Linked DNA regions of Homo sapiens. The protein of the gene in region 1 interacts with the protein of each later gene in a biochemical or structural test. Each region holds a gene or a part of one and is shown on either strand. Other genes may lie near its edges.

What was found.
Region 2: the proteins of NTRK3 (region 1) and SORT1 form a complex in vitro, tested with the Homo sapiens proteins (one study listed by BioGRID and IntAct).
Region 3: the proteins of NTRK3 (region 1) and DOK6 form a complex in vitro, tested with the Homo sapiens proteins (one study listed by BioGRID).

Annotation. Positions count from the first base shown.
Region 1 is NC_000015.10:88,253,718-88,261,484, forward strand, and holds the start of NTRK3 (NT-3 growth factor receptor isoform a precursor), read right to left. Parts: upstream 3,023-7,767; 5' UTR 2,927-3,022; intron 2,770-2,926; 5' UTR 2,567-2,769; exon of another isoform or gene 2,452-2,566; 5' UTR 2,437-2,451; coding exon 2,189-2,436; intron 1-2,188. UniProt on the Homo sapiens protein: Receptor tyrosine kinase involved in nervous system and probably heart development.
Region 2 is NC_000001.11:109,338,902-109,345,926, reverse strand, and holds part of SORT1 (sortilin isoform 1 preproprotein), read left to right. Parts: intron 1-45; coding exon 46-176; intron 177-3,768; coding exon 3,769-3,913; intron 3,914-5,047; coding exon 5,048-5,203; intron 5,204-7,025.
Region 3 is NC_000018.10:69,403,880-69,410,904, forward strand, and holds part of DOK6 (docking protein 6), read left to right. Parts: intron 1-7,025. UniProt on the Homo sapiens protein: DOK proteins are enzymatically inert adaptor or scaffolding proteins. They provide a docking platform for the assembly of multimolecular signaling complexes. DOK6 promotes Ret-mediated neurite growth. May have a role in brain development and/or maintenance.

The DNA of each region.
Region 1 (7,767 bases):
GATGGCCTCTCAGAATCCAAGTCCTGAAACAAGAATGGGGACACACACAGAGGGGCTCCAGATCCACTCCCTGCTCACTATCCTCCCAGACGCCCTCCTGAGGCCCTCCAGTACCAAAGAGGGCAAGAGGCCACCCCAGTCCCCTCCCATCACAGACCTTTCTGGCAGCCTAGAAAGGCTAACCCAACTCTGCCCTATGAAACTGCTTCCCTGAGCATCATTTTCAGAGGAGCAACACCTCTGTGTGGCTATAAAGAGCCTACGTGATTGTGACCATCCCTGCCTCCCACTGGCTTTCTACAGACAGACACATCCTTGGAGCAGCACACTGGATGCAGCTCACCCATTCCCAGAGACCCAGGCTGGGTACCAGGGGCCCCTTCTTCCAACCCTTGGCCCACCCCTGGCAATCTCTAGGTCAGGCTTCTGAGCACCAAGACTGGCTGCTCAGCTCCCACCTTCACCAGCACCCTACTACCCACATCCACCCCCTACACACATACACATACAGCCCCAGCAATGCACTTCCAAGTCTGAGTTTCCCTAACAGTCTCACTCTGAACCCTTCTCCCTGCATCCTTGGGAATGCTGGAAGCCTGTGGCCTGCAGTGGGGGAGAGGCACAGTTGGGTCTGTCCTGTTCCTCCTGCCCTCCCTGCTGACCCCCGCCCCTTGGCTGTTTATCTTGTCATCTCTGGCCGGGTTGAAGAGGGTAAGGGGGTGAACAGCAGAGCTGAGATATGGGTCAAGCTTGTCTCCTGGGCCAGGAGTCAGAGACATCTCCTGGGCTATCCATTTCCCTCAAACTGTCAGCTGCGAGAGCGCAAGCAGAAGCTCCATTAAGCCGAGAGGGCTGGTGGGCTTTCCAAAGAGCAGGACTGCAATTCCTCCAGGCTTTGCAGCCCCATGGCCCTGGGCTGAAGCAAGGGGAGGTGCTCCCAGAGCAGCACCAAAGGCAGGTCCGGCCCCCTTAAGTCCGTCGAAGGGGTAAAGAGCCACCCAAAATGCCTTCCTCCAGACCTTGGCCAGGACCTCAGCACAAACCCTTCTCAGCTGCCTACCCATTGCTGAGGGTCCCCAAGGGCTGGAAGCCTTGGGGGAAAAGAGGTGAGAATTATCCTCTGAGCAATTCCAGTATGGTCCACACCCTTCTCCAGGGTGGTAGGTTAGGAAGGGGTCACCTGGCCGAGGTCAACGAAAGAAAAGAGGAGCAGACTCTCCAGTCCCCAGCCCTCGATCTGTCCTCTCCTTTGCGTCTGCTGCCATCCCCACCAAAGAAAAATAGCAAGGAGAAAAGAGCAGGCCACCACTGGTCTCCCTCGGAGGGGGCAGAACCAAGCAAAAGCCAGCCAGAGTTGAATGTTCCAAATGAACCGATCCGCACGATCACACAAGAAACCCCTCTCCTCAAAACACACGCCCTCTCCTCTCCCTGCGCCATCCTGACTCGGAATAGTTCCGAGCAGTTATCAAAGCCCAAACTGGGAAGGGATCTGTAGGCGCCCAGATGCAGATGAGGGTGGCAAAGGGGTGTCTCGGAAATGCCCAAAATGGGGCTGGAGAGGGCGGGCTGCAGGAGGGGAAGGGAAGAGGTAGGCGTCCATGACGGCCTCCACACGTCCAAAGTCTCCCCGCGAGCAGCCAGCTCGCAACTTGTTTACTTGTCAGCATGTTTTGCTGTTTCCAAATGGAAATAGTTAAACACCTCGGCTGGATCGCGAGCAGTCCCTATCTGTCACCTTCCCTGCCGGCTAAGCGCTGCCGCCGCTGCCACCGCCGCTGCCGCCTCTGCCAAAGAATCGAACCTCGTCTACTTTATTCCACTTGAGCGTGGCCAAACTGTTGCTATTTAGTGGGGAGCAAAAAAAAACAATTTGCACCATCGAAACGAGCCAGCAACTGGTTGGGAGGCGGGCGGTAGCTGGGCCCCGCGTGCCCTCGGCGGCCGGGGTCCTCTCCGGGGAGAGGCACACACACGCATAGCCGGATCGCGCCTCGCCAGGGCCGGAGTCACCTGGAATGCGCAGCCGGAGAGCATCTCCCGAGCCAGAGCGAGCCTGACGCGCGCCCAGCGGGCGGCGGGCAGCGGCGAGCTGGGGCGGGCGGAGGGCCGGCTCCCGGCCGCGGGTGGGCAGGAGGGAGACGCAGAGCGCGGGGGAGGCAGGCTGGGGAGCGGCCGCCTGACTTACATGGAAGTGATATTCCTTGAGATGTCCGTGATGTTGATACTGGCGTTCCCATTGCTGTTCCCTGAATCCTGCCCTTCCAGGAGGGGGAAGAGGTTCCCATCGTCCGGCCGCCGGCAATTGATCTCAGTCTTGCTGCAGACACAATTTGCAGGGCAAGCCAGCACGGAGCCCACATAGTCCAGCCAGACGCTTCCCAGCAAGAAAATCCGCCAGAAACTACACTTGGCTGGGCAAAGAGAGACATCCATCTCCGATCGCTGCTTCTAAAAAAGAGGAGGAGGAGAGGAGAGGGGGGTGGGGTGGGGGGAGTGGGGAGAGCAGGGGGGGAAGGAAACAAAGACGGCGAGGGAGGGGGGAAGGGGGAGGGGGGGCCTCTGCCTTTGAAACGCCGAGCGATCAGATGCAAAATCCTTCAGCGTCTGAAACCATCGCGGACGCCGCCGCCGCCGCCGCCGCCGCCGGGTGGGAGCCGCGAGGAGCGCCTAGTGGCGCGGTCTGCCGGGCATGGTGGCCGGCTCGGCGATCGCTGACTCGCCGGGTCCGGGGGCTCTGGAAGCGAGGCGCGCTCTCCGACTCCGAGACTTTGCAGGGTTGCAACAGACGGTGGGGAGGCAAAAAAAAAAAAGGAAAAGGAAAAAATGGTGCTAAAGTCACCAAGTCCCACCTACTGGGCAGAATTAAAACGGACACACCACGCACCTGCAAAACACACACACTCACTCTCACACATACACACACCCGGAGCCCGAGGAAAGGAAGAGAAGGAAGATGCAGTAGGAGCTGCAGCAGCCGCCGCGAATGGCTCGCCGCGCGGCTGCAGAAATGTACAAGTGCTCCGAGCCTTACGAAACGCACGGGTTATCGGAGCGTCTTCCTCGGCTCCCTCCCTCCCTTCCTCCCTCCCTCCTCCCCTCCCTCGTCGCGGCCTCCTCCCCCCGCCCCCCGCCCGGGCTGGGAGCGGCAGGAGAGCGGAATCTCCCCCTCCCTCCCCTCCCCACACCCGTCTCTCTCCCCGCCTGTCCTCTCCCTCCTCCCCACCCACCCACCCACCCACTCGCCGGCTCGCGGCTGTAGCCGGCACCGCCACCCGCAGCCTCGCGGCAGCCCGCCCGCTCCACGCCTCGCAGCGCGGCGCCCGCTAGCCGCAGCCCGGGGGAAACCGAGACCGAAGGGAAAAAGTTGCATTTGAGATTGCGAGGGTCGGGGCTGGGGAGGGAGAGTTGGCGAGCTGGCTGCACGACACGGAAAGGCGCTCTCCTTTCCACTTTTTGGCCCTCGCGCTACCCGGTTTTGCTGCAATCCGGACCGCGGTAGGAAGTGAAATGAACGTGGCGGAGGTGATTGGGGAGTGCTCCCAAGCCTTGGGTGGGGGGCGCTCCCAAGCCTGGGTGGGTGGGGGGCGCAGGCTCACGGACGGCGACGGGGGGTGCCGGAGCGCACAGACACCCCAGAGAAGCACCCAGAGCCGGGGACCGGGACCGCAGACGCGCAGTCCTTGGTCTGAATGACACTCATTTCCGTAATCTAGAGTCTGGGGCTCTGGTCTTGGCTGGGAGGGGACTGCGGGACATGGCACGCTAGGTGCCCCCCGTGCCCGCTGCGCTTTCTTGGAGGTGGGTTTTGCATTCGGCCTTGAGCAGGCATGGATCGGGGAAGGAAGAAACAGGGGTCGAAAGGGCTGCGCTGGAGAGCCGAGGTGGCCCCGGGCGAGCTGTGCGTGCAAGAGAAATGGCCGGGGGAAATTGAGATGCAAGGGGCATATTTTGGCAAGCGCCACGCCAGCACCGTCAGAGGCCGGCTTCTCGGGCTCAGCTCTCGGGTGAGCTGAGCTGGCTGCCGGGTGAGGGGGCGGGCGGGCTGCTTTCTCCGGATTCGGGGGCGCAGAACCTCCTCCTTCCCTCCCACACAAGCACCCCTTCCTGGTAGGGACGCAAAGCAGGTGCAGCTTTCGACGAGAGCTCAGATCTCATCCGGGAAAGAAGTGTGTGTGGGGGGGGCCCCGCTTTTGCGCTGGTAGGGATTTTTTTCTTAATAAAACATAAAGATGCCAAGTGTGAGCTGTTTGCTGAAAAAAAAAAAAACGAGCATTCGCTGTGGGAAAGGAGAAGAAAGGGTTAGGGGAGTCCGAGCAGGCAGACACACTACAGCATTCACACGCAGAAGAAAGCAGGGTTCTCCTTCCCGAGCTTGGAGGAGGGCAGGCGAGGAAGCAAAATACATTGAATTCAATTCAACTGCATCCAGTATCTGAAAGGAGTCTCCCCCGCCCCCCTGTGGATTCCGATGCAGGTCATGCAACTTGCAGGCAAGATGGGGGAAGGGGTATGCCGGTGTCACCGCCTGCCCCAGGCGCAACCACAAACAGGCCGGTCGCCTTCGGGTGGCACTGTCGCTTGGAGTAAAAACTTGGACGAAAAAAATGGAAGAAAAGAACATGCCTATACAAGGCAGTTTTCCCGACTTCCCGTCACGTTCCACCTTCCCTTGGCCCCAGGGAGATTTTTACCCCCGTCGCCATTATGGCCTTGTCTCCAGACTGGCATTTTGCCCTCCCACCAGCAGGCGGGGACAGAGTGTGAAGACCTCCTTGGACTCTCAAACCACTTGCTACTGGCCCTAGGCCAATCCTGGCTGTCCTTAGGCCACTGGGAATTTCCCTGTCACTTCAAGTGCCATTCTGGGATTGGCTTTAGAATATCTGAGAGTCAGGAAACTGAGGTGTAGTCAGATCCTAACACTTGGCCTCTCTTGGGAGGTGGCAGGTGGCAGCAGAGAAACACAGCCTCTCTCAGACCACTCCTGGGCAGGGAACGCCAAGTGGATTCAGCCCAGCATCAGTGCTCCAGCCTGGAACTGAAATGGTTGTGTCCAAAAGATGCCCAGCCCACTTTTTTGAGAGAGAGAGAGAGAGAGAAAGAAAGAGAGAGAGAGAGGATTTTTAACATGTCAAGCAGAGAAGAAGAGACATCCATAAGTTAGAACAACAAAAACAACAACAACAAAAAACCTTTAAAAACCCCTCTGGATTTGGTAAAAATGCAGATTGTGGAGCAAGGGGCCCTGATGGGCAAGAAGTCTTTCATCCTGACAGTAAAATGGGATTAAGATGGGGTGCTACGTTTATGCTCACACTCTGGGCCTGAGCAGGAAGCGACAGCTGAAAAAGAGGGAAGCCCTTTCAAAAGCAGGTGACGCATGGACACATAGAGGGGACAATGCACATGAGGGTCTACCAGAGGGTAGAAGGTGGGAGGAGGGAGAGGATCAGGAAAAATAACTCATGGATACCAGGCTTAATACCTGGGTGATGAAATAATCTGTACGACAAACCCCATGACACATGTCTACCTGTATAACAAAGCTGCACATCCTACACACGTACCCCTGAACTTAAAGGTTTAAAAAAAAAAAGCAGGTGATAGACTAGAGTGGGGAAGAGCAGAATTTCATTTCTAACCACAGGGAAATGACAAGCTTTCTGGGACTCCGCTTTCCCATCTGTAAAATGACCACGTTAAGACCAGATCCTCAAAACCCAAAGTGTGGCCCTCTGTCCAGTAGCATCCATATCACCTGGAAGCTTGCAAGAAGTGCAGCATCTGAGGCCCCATCACAGACCTCCCAAACCAGAATGTCCATCAGAACAAGCTCCCAGGTGATTCATAAGCACATCGCAGCCCCATAGTCATCCCTCCCAGCTTGAAGATTCTCTGATTCTACATGGATCTGGGCCAAAGGGACTGTTGAGGGAGAAAAAAAAAAAAAAGGTGGGGAATGATGGGGATGGGTCCTCATAATGTTATTCAGTTACAGTGAAGTTAGGGTGAAATAAACTGGGTATCTCAGAGGCAGGGGCCTTGTCAGAAAAAGACATTTGAAGTTTCATTCTAAGCTTAAGAAGATGAGAATGACCTGCTCATGCACTGCTCACAGAAATCATAGTGCAGGGTCAATAATAGTGCACACTCAGAGTTTGCTAGTTCTTAACCTCTGCAGTAGGCCAAATTTAAATGTGGGAGCAGAAGAAAGTCTCCAGCGTAGACACCCTCCCCTCAGTAAGAGTCCAGAGCATTTACAGTGTCTCACCTCTTGATAAGAATGTCCTGGTTGAAAAGGAAAAATGCCTGTCGCTTCATGGAGTCCTGGAGATATCATGACCAAGCTCAGCATCCAGCCAACCAGGGGTCACCCCCCAACCTCCTCATCTCCTTTGCTACCAGCTGGAGTCTTAGAAAGGAGGAAACTCACCCGTGTGCCCCTTGCTGATCAATAAGAGGCAGGAATAGGCAAAGTTTTTTGTTTTGTTTTGTTTTTTGAACAGAAAGTAAAGCTTTAGAAACCCTTTACAGGCGAGCAGACACCTTCCAGTACCAAGGGTTTGGAGAAGACAGAAATGTTCCCAAGATTCGAATGCAATCTTTCACCAGACAGGTCAGAGTGGGGACCACTTGCTGGAGCACAGTGGCCCAACTCCCCTGACACCTAGAGAAATTGAACACGTGTCTTTCTTAAAAGGCATGTTCCAGGCGTGCAAGCACCTGAGATTAATATCAACTGTTTATGGGAGATTTCCAGCAGCCCACATTCCCCTCCACCTAGCAAGGGAGAAAGGGAGTGGAAACTCAGAGCAGAGCCCTGCCAGTCTATTGGTCACCTGTCTGCCTTTCTAACCCAGCCACATCCCTTTTTCCAAAGGACCCATACTCCTGAGTCAGTGGCCACATTACCGGGATGTAGGCCACACACCAGGCAGGTCCATGGATTCACCCACCATGCCCTGCTCCTATGGTGTCATTCTGAATCCAAGAGCTGTGCTTCACAACTTTCAAGTTTGAGCAGAAATAGGATCTACTTCTGCAAGTCTCAGCTGGTCAAGAAACTGTGATACTGGGAGGTGACTGGGGAGCACAGCGGGCTACAAAGGGAATACTAGGTCCTGAAGGACTTGCTGTTCTAAAAGAGCTATCTGGAGCTGGCAGATCTGGGCTTGGGCTAGAGGAGGAGTTCTGTTTCTTGGGTGGCCCAAGCATAAGTTACAAGGGAAAGAGACAGGTCTGGGCCTGGTTGGAGGCTGGGGATGTATAATGCTATCCAGAAGCTCTGGGTCCAAGGAAAGAATTTTGACCATACATGGAAGATGAAAGCCCACCCACAAAAGGGGACAGTCAAGCACCAAAGTGGTCCAGGAAAGCAGAAGAATTCAACCATGGAAGAGCCAGCTCAGGGCTCCCACTCAAGTCCCAATATCTTGGACAAACACCTGCCAGGAGGTTGGGACTACCTGCTGGTGGTGTCCTGCTTGAACACCTTCAGTGGCAGGAAGCTCATTACCAGCCACTCCAGAGCCTTCGACTCTGTTCTCAGACAGCTCCATTCCTTGGGTATCCTTGACTTTGACATAGCGAAGCCAGCACCCTAAAGCTGCCACCCTCGTGCTAGTGCTGCCACCTAGACCCTCAGGGAAAAGTCTCACCTCTTTTCTGCAAGCCACCCAGGAGGCTACTCACTGCCCCTCTCTTCTCTGAGCAAAGCCTCAGTTCCTTCCCTATACTCCAAAAGCACAGCTTTCTGATCTTTCC
Region 2 (7,025 bases), on another chromosome or scaffold:
CTCACCAGTAAGTGAAATTTTAATTAATATTTTGTCTTGTTTAAGAAGCTGACCTTGGGGCTCTGGAATTATGGAGAACTTCAGACTTGGGAAAAAGCTTCAAAACTATTGGTGTGAAAATCTACTCATTTGGTCTTGGGGGACGTTTCCTTTTTGCCTCTGTGATGGCTGATAAGGTAGGTATTGCCCTCTCCCCTTTGGGGTCTGATATTTCTGCAAATATCTCTCGTATAGATTCTCTTTATTACTTGGCATTGACAGAGTTTCTTGTCTTTTTGTTATATTTAGTACCACTGTGAGTGTTAGGGGTGATTCTTTTTGCAAAGGCTGATTGACTGATAGGCTACTCTGCACTTTGGCCTTCTGTCACCATGTGAATTCTGTTATCTTTTTTGGGATTTTTTTTTTTTTTGAAACAAAGTCTCTCTCTGTTGCCTAGGCTGGAGTGCAGTGACGCAATCTCGGCTCACTGCACCCTCCGCCTCCCAGATTAAAGCAATTCACCTGCCTCAACCTCCCAAGTAAGTGGGACTATAGGTGTGCACCACCACACCCGGATAATTTTTGTATTTTTAGTAGAGATGGGGTTTTGCCATGTTGGCCGGGCTGGTCTTGAACTCCTGAGCTCAGGTGATCCCCCCGCCTCAGCCTCCCAAAGTGCTGGGATTATAGGCGTGAGCCACCGCGCCCGGCCAGGATATTTTGATCCAGTGTTTGGGCATTACTCAGACAATGGACATCTGTAGAAAGCAATCTCTTGCTCATTATCCAAGAATAAAAATACAATTAGATAACATTAATTGAGTGCCTACTATATGCTAGGTACTATTCTAAGTCCCAGGAATATGGCAGTGAACAAAACAGATGAATTTCCTGCTCTCAGAACTTATGTTTAAGGGGGAAAATAAATACTCAAAAAATAAATATGAAGGCTGGGGGTAGTGGCTCACACTTGTAATCTCAGGACTTTGGGAGGCTGAGGCGGGTGGATCCCTTGAGCCCAGGAATTCAAGACCAGCCTGGGCAACATGACAAAACCCTGTCTCTACAAAAAATAAGAAAATTAGCCAGGCATGGTGGCATGTGCCTGTAGTCTCAGCTACTTGGGAGGCTGAGGTGGGAGGATCATCTGAGCCTGGGGAGGTTGAGGCTGCAGTGAGCTGTGATCATGCCACTGCATTCCAGCCTGGGTAACAGCACAAGACCCTGTCTCATAAATAAATATAAATGTGAGTGTGTGTGTATCAGGTAATAATTAAAGCCGCGAAGAAATCTAAAACAGTAAGAAAACAAAGTGTCAGGAGTCAGTGCTCTTTTAGACAGACTGTTTAGGATGGGCTCTCTGAGACCTAAGTGAAACAAGAACTTGACCATGTGGCCATCTGGGAGGAGAGTAGGATGAGGCACAGCCAGTGCAGAGACCCTCAGACTGGAGCATGCCCGATCAATCCAAGCAAAGGGGAGAAGGGCAGTATGGGGGGAGCACAGAGAATAATAGTCCAAAGTGGGGCCAGAGGGGGCCTGGCCAGACCTTATGTGGCCTTTGTAGATCACAATTAGGATGTGGGCCTTACTCTTCTTGTGTTGGGAGCTGTGAGAGGGTTGTGAGCAGGGGAATGCTGAGATTTGGCTTCTCTTTTGAAGAATAGGTGTGCGCAGAACAGCCTGACAGGGGCACGCGCAGAAGCAGCGGGAGCGCCGGGAGCTCTCTCAGGAGTCCAAGCTGGGGAGGTGGTAGCTTGGCCAGGCTCTTGGCAGTGGGTAAGGGGGCAGGTGGTGAGACTGTGGATACATTTTTAAACATATTACTAATAGGACTTGCTGATGGATTTGATGTGGGTTGTGAGAGAATGAGTGGAATCAAGGGTACCTTTAAGAGTCTGTATCCTGAGCGCCTGAATGGTGGTGCCATTTTCTAGGATGGCAAAGACTGCAGGAGGAGCAGGTTGTGGGAGAAAAATCAAGAATTCTGTTTTGGGCCGAGCATGGTGGCTCACGCCTTAATCCCAGCCCTTTAGGAGGCTAAGACGAGCAAATCACTTGAGGTCAGGAGTTTGAGAGCAGCCTGGCCAACATGGCGAAACCCTGTCTCTACTAAAAGATACAAAAAATTAGCCAAGCGTGGTGGCGCAGGCCTGTAATCCCAGCTACTCGGGAGGCTGATGCACAAGAATCAACTGGACTGTGGAGACGGAGGTTGCAGTGAGCCAAGATCATGCCACTGCACTCCAGCCTGGGAAACAGAGTGAGACTCTGTCTCAAAAAAAATAAAAAAAGAATTCAGTTCTGCATATGAGACACCTATTAGATATCTGAATGGAGATGTCAAGTGAGCATTTGGGTATATGAATCTCCCTAATTGCTATGGTATTTGAAGCCATGTGACCAGATGATACCTTCTGGAGGAGTAAGTAGGTAGCAAAGAGGTGGGAGGACTGAGCAAGCCCTGAAGCACCCACAACTGAAAGGTTGGAAAGAGAAGAATCCAGCAAAGAAGACTGAGAGGGAGGGATCCGGGAGGAAGAGGGAAATCAGGACCATTGAGTTAGGTGCATTCTGAGAATTATCCACTGGAGTTGGCGACGTGGAGGTTGTTGGTGACCTTGACAAAAGCACTTCATTGGAAGTTAAAAGGCCGATTGGAGTGACTTCAGTGAGAACTAGAGATGAAGAAGTAGGCAGTAAATACAGATAACTCTCCAAAGCCATTTTGTAATATCCTCCCAATAACCCTGTGAGCTAATAGTATTACCTCAGTTTTATAGGTGAGGAAATTGAGTAACTTACCTAGGGTCAACCAGTAGTGGAATCCTGCTGGAAATCAGACTCAAATTCCAGAGGTAGCTTCCTATGCTATACTGCATATATGGTATAATGCTGTCTACAGAATTAAAATTTTGCGATGTACTTTTGAACTCTGGTTTCTACCTACAGTAATGAGAATAAGATTCAAAGTAATGAGACATGTTGGTATAAGTTGAATAAGTTAAATGTACTTATCACTGAACTTTAAAGAGTATTTAATCTAAGGAAACACCGACATTAATTCTCATGCTCAGGCTAACTGTATCTAGTAGCGATGTTAAGCTATTTATCAGAGAGTTAAGTTTTAATTGCTTTCTTAACAGACTCTTTTCGTCAGCCAAATACTCCCTAATCAGTTTCCTTATAGTAATTTCCGACTCTCCTTGGCCTCTTTCCAGCCCATGCCTGTTCCCTTCATCCTGGCTATTCTGAGAGACTTCCTTAGAGAGAAGGCGTGTTACATCTTGACTTCCCTTGTGATCTCCCAAACATGGGTTTCATCTCTATTTTCTAGACCCTTAAGTATATAATTCTTTAAATTATGCAAGCACTGTATGAAAGGGACCAAACTTTTATGCAGTAGTCATCATTTTAAGAATTACCTGAGTGTATGCAAATGGCTATAAAGCCAACCTAATGTTCTCATCAAATCCTTAGCTCTACTGAAGGAGGTGGACTATCAGAGACCAAGACTATACTATCTTACAGGGCCGCATCAGAATGAAGAATTCAAAGAGAAAGCCAAGATAGCCTTACTTAGAATAGAATGGATTGTTCCTTTACCTAGAACTTTGCTAGGGGCTAGAAATTGCTTTGGTAATTGGTACTATGACCTTTCATTCATAGCAATCGTACCCAGTAGAGAAATGGATAATAGTAGTTATTTAAAACATTCTTGTTCATGTCCCTGCCCATGGCATCTTGGCAGAAAATTAGAAAGATAAATATTGACATCTGTTCTAGGATACAACAAGAAGGATCCACGTTTCAACAGATCAAGGGGACACATGGAGCATGGCCCAGCTCCCCTCCGTGGGACAGGAACAGTTCTATTCTATTCTGGCAGCAAATGATGACATGGTATTCATGCATGTAGATGAACCTGGAGGTAAGAGCTTTTTAGTGGCTTACCCTTAAAAGCATAGAGATGTAAGCTTTGAGCAGCTTTTATTTTTACATGTCGAGTTTTCCTCTTACCCCTAGAAATTTATTAGTGCCCTACTGATTTTTCTGTCCTAGAGATCATCTGTAGCCCCTGTTAAAAATGCCACTTGTTTTGGTAGCTTGTGTGTATGTTCAGGTGTTCTAGAGCAGAGCTGCTCAAAGAATGGTCAGCAGACTGGTACTGATTTGCAAACTATCTGTTACCAGATAAGTACAGAAATTGAGAGCAAGAGTTTGGAAACTCTTCTAGCCTTTTGACAAAGCAATTTTATGTCTGTTGGATCTAATGACAAAAAATTAGGGGTTTATGGCTGGGCGCAGTGGCTCACACCTGTAATCCTGGCACTTTGGGAGGCTGAGGCGGGCAGATCACGAGGTCAGGAGATCGAGACCGTCATGGCTAACACAGTGAAACCCCATCTCTACTACAAAAAATACAAAAAATTAGCTGGCCGTGGTGGCGAGCACCTATAGTCCCAGCTACTCAGGAGGCTGAGGCAGGAGAATGGCATGAACCCGGGAGGTGGAGCTTGCAGTGAGCTGAGATCGTGCCACTGCACTCCAGCCTGGGCAACAGAGCGAGACTCCATCTCAAAAAAAAAAAACTTAGGGGCATATATTTTGTTTACCTTTTCATTTTCTAATGATTAGTTTTTATTATGTTTTACAATAGCATCAGTTTGTGACATATTGGAAATCTTACAAATTGATCCTTCACTACAGATAGTTTGAGAAGCATTGTTCTAGAGTGTAAAGATTTAAAAATATGTAAACTAAACATAGGGCCTCTCCCACCAAAATATATCTGGGAAGAGTTTTTCTGTAGCATCTGATTAATTTATTCAACAAACTCAGCATCTGCCATATTCCAGGCACTAAGCTGGGTACTAGAATTAAAGATGGGCATAAAGATCTTGAGTATCAAACCTTGATTAATTCTCAGGTCTGAGTCTTCATCATGAAGAGACACAATTGGCTACTGTGTTTGGTCAGGCAGGTAATCGTGTGTGGTTAGACTATTGTTTTTCTCTTTGGTTCCACCCAAGACTTAGTATTTTTGTTTGTTTGCCTATTTCAGACACTGGGTTTGGCACAATCTTTACCTCAGATGATCGAGGCATTGTCTATTCCAAGTCTTTGGACCGACATCTCTACACTACCACAGGCGGAGAGACGGACTTTACCAACGTGACCTCCCTCCGCGGCGTCTACATAACAAGCGTGCTCTCCGAAGGTGAGTCTCGGCATCGCAGTGGTGTACTGTGCCTTCAGCTGCATGTGGTAGGATTTGAGGCTTCGGGGAACCTGTCCCCTAGTAATGTTGCTTGCCAAGCCAACAAGCCTACCCATGTACATTTTTTTGTTTCCTTTTTTTTTTTTATTGTGGCAATATGTCTAACAAAATTTGCAGTTTTTAACATTGTATAGGGTACAATTCAGTAGCATTAAGCACAGTCACAATGTTGCACAACCATCACCCCTATTTCCAGAGCTTTTTCATCATCCCAAATAGAAATTGCACCAGGTGCACAAGCACTCCTCGTTCCCCACCCAGTCACCCAGCTCTGGTAACCAACATTCTATTTTATGTCTCAATGAATTTGCCTATTCTAGGTAGCTCATGTAAGCAGAATCATACACTATTGGTTGTTGTATGTCTGGCTTCTTTCATTTTGCATATTGTTTCAAAGTTCAGCCACATTGCAGCATGTTTTAGAATTTCACTTATTGCTTTTTAAGACTAGAATATATTCCTTTGTTTGAATATAGCACCTTTTTTTTCTTTTTCTTTCTTTTTTTTTTTTTTTTTTGAGATGGAATCGCTCTGTTGCCCAGACTGGAGTGCGGTGGCGTGATCTCAGCTCACTGCAACCTTGGTCTCCCAAGTTCAAGGGATTCTCCTGCCTCAGCCTCCTGAGTAGCTGGGTTTACAGGTGTGTGCCACCACACCCAGCTAATTTTTGTATTTTTAGTAGAGATGGGGTTTCACCATGTTGGCCAGGTTGGTCTCGAGCTCCTGACCTCAGGTGATCTGCCTGCCTTGGCCTCCCAAAGTGCTGGGATTCCAGGCGTGAGCCACCATGCCCAGCCTGTTTTTTATTCCTCCATTGATGGACACTTAGGCTGTTTCCATTTTCAGCTCTTATGAATACTGAATGCTGCCATGAACATTGTTATACATGTAACTGTTTAAGTCAATGCTTTCAGTTCCTTTGGGGATATATGTAGGAGTGAAATAGCAGGATCACATGATAATTCCATGTTTCTCTTTTGGAGGAAATACCAATGGGTTTTCCACATGGTTGTACCATTTTACATGCAATACAAAAGGATTCCAATTTCTCTACTTCATTGCAAACACATTATATTCTCCTATTTTTGTAACAGCACTCCTAATGGGAGTGAAATACTATCTCGTTTATAGCTTTGATTTGCATTTCTCTAATGACTAAAGATGTTGAACAACTTTTTATATGCTCGTTGGCCATGTGAATATCTTCGTTGAGGAAGCTTCTAATTGAGTCCTATGGATGGCAGTGATTTTTAAAGTTGTGTTCACTGATGCTCCTCTGGTGCTTATGACAATTTTTGCACATAGTAGATGTTCAGTAATACTTGCCAAATGAGCCTACAAATAAACGGCTGAACAGCCTTGCACTCAAAACCATACAGTGAACACACTTGAAAAACATTTAAGACTGAGCCTTAAGTATGATAGGCAGGAATGGGGAGGGAAGGGCATTTTCAGCTGAAGGAAGTACACATGCAAAGTATCAGAGTCGCTGGGCGCGGTGGCTCACACCTGTAATCCCAGCACTTTGGGAGGCTGAGGCAGGTGGATCATGAGGTCAGGAGATCGAGACCATCCTGGCTAACACGGCGAAACCCCGTCTCTACTAAAAATACAAAAAATTAGCTGGGCGTGGTGGTGGACACCTGTAGTCCCAGCTACTCAGGAGACTGAGGCAGGAGAATGGCGTGAACCCGGGAGGCTGAGCTTGCAGTGAGCCAAGACCATGCCACTGCACTCCAGCCTGGGCAACAGAGTGAGACTG
Region 3 (7,025 bases), on another chromosome or scaffold:
CATATTCCTAATTTTATGGACTCAAAACTATGAACTTTTCCAAATAACATATTTTTTAACTCCAAGGACACGATGAGTTTTTGTGATTTATGTCCAAAACTAAATTTCAAAATATAAATAATTATAATTGAACATGCATAGATATTTGATTTATTATGGACAGTACTCATGCTTTCAAAAATCAAAGTCTGTGATATTCTAATGGAGAAAAAAAGGCCTGGATATGAGGCCGATTGCATCAGAGATAATTATTGACATGAAACATAATTTATGATGAAATGTTCTAATGTGCCCTTTGCTCTTCACAGATAAGTGCAATTTTGAATGAGGGCAGTAAGGCATTTCTTGTCCTCTAGGTAGCAAGTCAGCCCTTTCAGAGGGGCTTCCAGGTTTAAGAGGTCAAAAAGGCCCTTGCCCTGTGTCTCACTGGGGAAGCTAGCAACCTGTTGAGTACAGTCCCTTACCCACTGCTTGGGAAAGAAGTAAAATTTAGTAAGCAAGGCATATATAGCAAAATATCCAGTCAGTTTTTGGTTTGCAGCCAAACTAAGAACTCAATCACTGAAAGCATTAATAATCTAACACTTTGTGTATTGACCCTAAATTTATCAGAAATAGATGCAGCTTTGTGGAGTGATCATCATCATCATCACCATCATCACAGTCATTGTCATCAATATCACTGTACAAATTTTAGACTGCTATACCTTGACTTATTCTAGACACAGACCTCACATCATTTTTTTTCAAGGAATTCATTCAAATACATCAACATGACTATTCACAGACACATTGTATGCAGACAAAATAGTGTCTTCTACAGACATTTTACATTTCTTACTCAAACTCAGGTGAGAGATTGGTGTTGATATGTGTGGGTTCTGAAGGAGTGTCTCAGGATAGGGTGGTGTGTGTGTGTGTGTGTGTGTGTGTGTATTCAGGTACACACTCAAGTAATCAAATTATCTTGGAGTGCCCACAGTTTAAGAGGCAGTGTACACTGGTGTTTGTGTGTGTATTACAGAGTCATATTGTGTTAAGCCTGAATTAGTTATAATAAAGAACCCCTGCATCATTGCTACTGAGAGTACATCGGGCCAGTCATTGTCACTTTGCACCAACTTCGCTGTAGGGGAAGCAGGGAAATGTGGAGGGACAGATTGCGAGTTTTGAAGAGCACTAACTTTATGAGCTGAGCACCTATTGAGAATTTTGCTTTTTCATATTTTTGTTTTAACATCTTATTGTGGATTCACCTACCTCTTGCCCTTTCTCCCTTCTTGATTAAAACCTTAAGACACCTCCATTCCTGGCTTAAGGATAATTGATCTCCTTTCTGTAAACACTGTGAGTTTTCCTTTCCTCTCTCAACAGCTTTCCTCGGAGTATTTGTTCATGAGAGATATTTATGAAAATTCACCCTTTTATAGAAGCTCAATGATTAAAATAAATAGAAATAGCTGGACACGGTGGCTCACGCCTGTAATCCTAGCATTTTGGGAGGCTGAGGCAACATGGTGAAACCCCATCTCTACTAAAAATTACAGAAAGTCAGCGGGGTCTGGTGATGTGTGCCTATAGTCCCAGCTACTCAGGAGGCTGAGGTGCGAGAATTGCTTGAACTCGGAAGGTGGAAGTTGCTGTGAGCTGAGATCATGCCTCTGCACTCTAGCCTGGGTGACAAAGCGAAACTCTGTCTCAAAATAACTAACTAAATAAAATAAAATAAAATAAAATAAAATAAAATAAATAGAAATGTGCATATGTGCATTTGTATATTTTGTCCTTTAGACCATTTTACAATTTCTTTCATCTCCAAGTCTGTAAAAACTAGTTTGTAAAGAGAGATTATATCTTGCATGGCATGCATTACCAATTTCCCAAGAATTAGATGCAATAAATATATTTAAGATAAAACATATAAATAACTTAGTCATTCTGACTATTTAAAAATTCTAAAGGAATTTCAGGATCATTACTTTGTATATGAATTTCCAATATATGGATTTATGGTGCAGAAGTTATAATGAGTGTGTTTCAGTCTTTACTTGTCTAGAATATTGTGAATCCTGGACATTGTTTTCTGAAATGGATCTGTGGTATCTATGTTTATTTATCATTTGTATATTTATCATTTCTCATTAAATACTAATTTAGCAGATGACAATTTCAATTATTTGAACTCTATTTGATTCTAGATTTTTATTCATGGTGACAATTATGCATATTCCTTACGCTGTGTGTAGATTTGCCACTTACTTCTGTATCTATACATATTCCTGCAAATAATGCTAGTTCTTAGAATTTTCCAGTAAGCAAAGATCTTATATATCTTCTACCCAATCCCTATATTTTGCATTATCTTCAACTGCATGTTCGTGTGTATGACATCTGATGTATGCTTAGAAACTCTATCTCTATTGGCAATTTTTTTCCTTTTAAAAACATCCCTCTGTCTGCATATGAACATGTCCAAAGTTCTTTGAATTTCAAAAATTAAGCCAAAGACAATGAAAATTAAGGTAATTTTTACAGTAAAAACCAAATACAGACATTGTGGCTGGATTTTGCTATTAAATTATTATGCCTATGTAAGACCTGGGAGAGGTGGGTAAATCAGAGAGAGTTATCAAGATTCACATCTCAGTTTTTATCTTGATAGATTTACAGATGACTGCTGGCAAGGTGAACTTTAAAAATGGCATTCCTTTTCTTAGAAAACAAAGATAATACTCAGTACTTAAAGAGATCTTTCAAATGACTGAAATTAATAGATAGTGAGCAGGGAAGTGCTACAGTGGTCAAATATCTTTCTACGATCTACATTCCCAGTTTCCTTAAATGTCTTTCAAACACGCACAGTAATGGTGAATATTTTGGATCAGTATAAAATAGAATACGGAATAAAAAATTAGTTTAGGCTGGGTGCGGTGGCTCACACCTGTAATCTCAACATTTTGGGAGGCCGAGGCTGGCGGATCACCTGAGGTCAGGAGTTTGAGAGCAGCCTGGCCAACATTGTGAAACCTCGTCTCTACTAAAAATACAAAAATTAGCGGGGTGCAGAGGCCAGCGCCTGTAATTCCAGCTACTCAGGAGGCTGAGGCAGGAGAATCGCTTGAACTCGAGAGGTGGAGGTTGCAGTGCACTGAGATCGTGCCACTGCACTCCAGTCTGGGCAACAAGAGCGAAACTCCATCTAAAAAAAAATAGTTTACTATGAAGCATATATATTTGACATAAATGTCATCTTTTCAAAGTATTTTTATTAGTTAGCATTGCCCTCTTTGGATCATAAACCATGTAGAAACTGTTGAGTAGGACAATTAAGTATTTGTATCTTTGGACTGTTTCTATTTACATCAATTTTAGAAACTGTAGAAGATAAAAGGTATGCAATACAAACAAAATTGAAATTATCTGTAGTCCCACCATTTAAAGATAATCTCTAGATTCACATATTTTGAAATGCAGTGCTGGTTTTGAGGAAGACATAATTTCTATTAAATAAGATAAAATAATTAAAAGGGAGCATACTATGATTTCTTTAGCCTCGGTTTTATTACTTGTGCCTCACTTTAGTCACAGTATTTTCTGTTTTTCTTCAAGGTCTTGTAACTTTGTCCACAGAGTCCACAAATTCTAGATAGGGAACATTTTCATTAACTTTCTGCATAAATCCTCTTTAGATTTATTTTAAGATACAGAGCAGTATTATCCTCTAAGTAATTCATTTTTATATTGTTACACTATTACTCAATGAGAATATTGCACCTGTCAGTCAAAGTGGATAGAATAAGTAATGATATTTTGCTATAAGCAAGAGCAGAAATTAATAAAGAAAACTATTGTTTACATGGTACTTGCAATGATTAGTGATGGTTGTAACCTTTCAACATGTGCAAAATATTTTGTCTGCCATTTTCCTGAATTATTTGCAATAATTCTTGGTTAATTTTTATTTTTGGCTTAACAGTAAAATTACTGGGAACAAAGACATATTAATGCTTAGTTTGAGACTTCATAATGGTAACATAATCTCACTACATTTTGTACATATTGTGCATCTCACAACTTGTAAAGACTTATCACACATATTATATAAGTCTTATGGTAGGATTTCAAACATATATTCAATTTTTAACCCCCATTCTGTACATAAACTAGAATCCAAAAGAAGTAAGGCAAATCAGCTGGAGTTATTGAGACACAGCTTGGGTTTGTGTGTTTGTGTCTACAAACCTAGGTTTATAACTTCAAGTTCAGTGTAATAGCTGTTATAGAACAGCCACCACTTTGGAGTATATATAGACAAGTTCAACACAGTCATGTGTACCCTTCAAAGTCAAGATGCTTTCTTTGGTATCTTGGTTTAAAGCTGATACAATCATTCACTGTACTCAATGCTAAGTTATTTAGATTGCAGACAAAAATGCTACTTAGTGAAATAATTTATGTCACAATAAGGAAGTACTATGCAGATACTTGTCCAGGCCACACTGAATTGACACAATTTCATTTTCATTGATGCCAAACACAAATTCACTAACCTCTCCTTTCAAAAAAAAAAAAAAATAGAGCACCTTTCAAAATTTACATGACAGTGTCTGGGTAGAATTTTACAAGTTATTTAAATAGTTAAATATCTTTAGTTTAGCATTACCTTTATTTATGGAAGATGATATTTTATTTAACCTGGCTTTATAAAAGATTATGTTTAAATCAACTTAGTGAAAGGTGAGTTCATTTAAAGAAAACCTAAATACAAAAACTGTACAGATTAATGGGGATCTGACAAATCAAAAGGCAGTATGTGTTGACATAGTCATGCCTCACATAGTATGACAGTGTTAGCTAAATGCCCAGGCATTGACAGTACTCAACCACAGCACGATCTTAACTCAAGAGACTGGATTATTTTGTTTGTTTCTTATTTTTGTTGCTTGCTGCTTTAAAGGGGGCTTAAATCAAAATAGATGTATTTAAATTATGTTCCTTTATTAAAAAACTATTAATTTTTTAAGTTGCCTATATGCCACTCTCTTATTCAAATGTGTACATTTATACATAAAATGTATTACACGTTGATGTGGTTTGGCTGTGTCCCCACCGAAATCTCATTTGAATTGTAGCTCCCATAATCCCCACGTGTCATGGGAGGGACCCGGTGGGAGGTAACTGAATCATGGGAGTGGTTTCTCCCATGCTGTTCTCGAGATAGTGAGTTCTCACAAAATCTGATGATTTTATAAGGGGCTTCCCCCTTCACTGGGTACTCATTCTGTCTCCTGCCGCCCTGTGAAGAGGTGCCTTCCACCATGATTGTAAGTTCCCTGAGGCCTCCCTAGCCATGCAGAACTGTGAGTCAATTAAACCTCTTTCCTTTATAAATTACCCAGTCTCTGGTATGTTCTTACAGCAGCGTGAGAATGGACTAATACACATGTAGAAACGTGTGTAGTAATTTTTTCCTAACGATTTTTCCATTGTAAATATGGAATTGCTTTTTTCTGATTACTCACTACCCTTTGGCATGTTTATGTGTGTATGTATATGTGTGTACACACATATATACATATATAATGTGCTATATATTGAATATGTATGTATTTCCAAATGGCACATTACTACCCATACACATGGAATTGCTATCTTTGCTGAGTGGATAGCAGAATGCACTCCCCACCTCTGCACCAGAAGAAGATGTTCATAAAATGCTTTTGTAGAATACAAGGAAAGTTTTTAATTCTATAAACCATTTTATGTCTACATTGGTCTTTACTTGGAAAAATAGATGCAATATTTGTCTAAAATTGGAAAGTTAGTATTTTTTCCCCAAAACTATAAAAACTATAACTTTAACACCATGGCAACCAGTAAATTTTATATTTATTTTTGTTTACATAATTCTAGTAAATTTTCTCACATGCTATGCAAAAATAAGAGTAAAATTATACTTTTCACATATGTCTCCTTGCTTTGAAAAATATTCCTTTTTGTTTAAACTTACTAGCAAATAGGAATACATTTTCCAGAGTGTTTTAAAGACCGTAGGGTAGTTCTGTAGAAAGCATCCATGTCATTTTACTCTTGCTTTCATAGACTTCACCACATATTTGGAATCCTTAAGTTTTAGCTATATAAGTCTCCTAAACCAAAGTACACCTAGTACCAAGTCATGATACTGAATTTACCTAGAAGCTACCAATTTTATGTATAAGTATGAAATATACTATTCTAGACATTTAAAACTGGACAATTATTTAGCACTGTGAAGTCCACTCAACACATTCCGTTGTTTTCTGATATTTTGAATAATTATCTATATTACCTATCCCTTTATTAAAAAACAATCACTGTCAACCACGACTGCATATAGGAGTGACCTGCAGAACTTGATCCTTCCGCCTGGGCGTTCCTCACTGAATTGGCCTGCCTGGAGTTGAGTGTAGGTTTGCTTTAGAGTTCCCTCAAGTGCTTTTAATGTGACACCAGAGTTGATAATTGTTGCCATCAAATGATACTTTTTTAGGAAACAGAGAAAATATGTAACATGCTAGACTCCTCTAAACTGCGAATTACACTGTTGTTAGTGCGAAGACCTCTGAAATATAAAGTTAATTATCCATTAAATCCTTTATGTAACACTAATTTCCTGACAGTCCATAATGCTTTATAATGTGAACACAGAAGGAATACAACAAAAAATTTCTTCGATGTACAGAAATTGACTTCATAAACAATGTAACGAACGTGAGTAAATCCTTTCTGAGGACTTTCCAGGCTCTCTTGATACATGACTGATGCTTCTACCAGCAATGTGGATGCTCTTGAAAGATTTCAATTGTCTAATTTGTGTATTCTCATCTAAGTAATTAAGATACCACGGCTATTTAAATTGTACTTAATTTAAGACTCACTGAGTTCTGAACAATGCAATCATGATTTTCCCAATGGGAGATTCAGTGCATGAGGCTATATTTTTAAAAAACCAGTAGCTCAGAGTCAGTTTTGTATTCTTCATA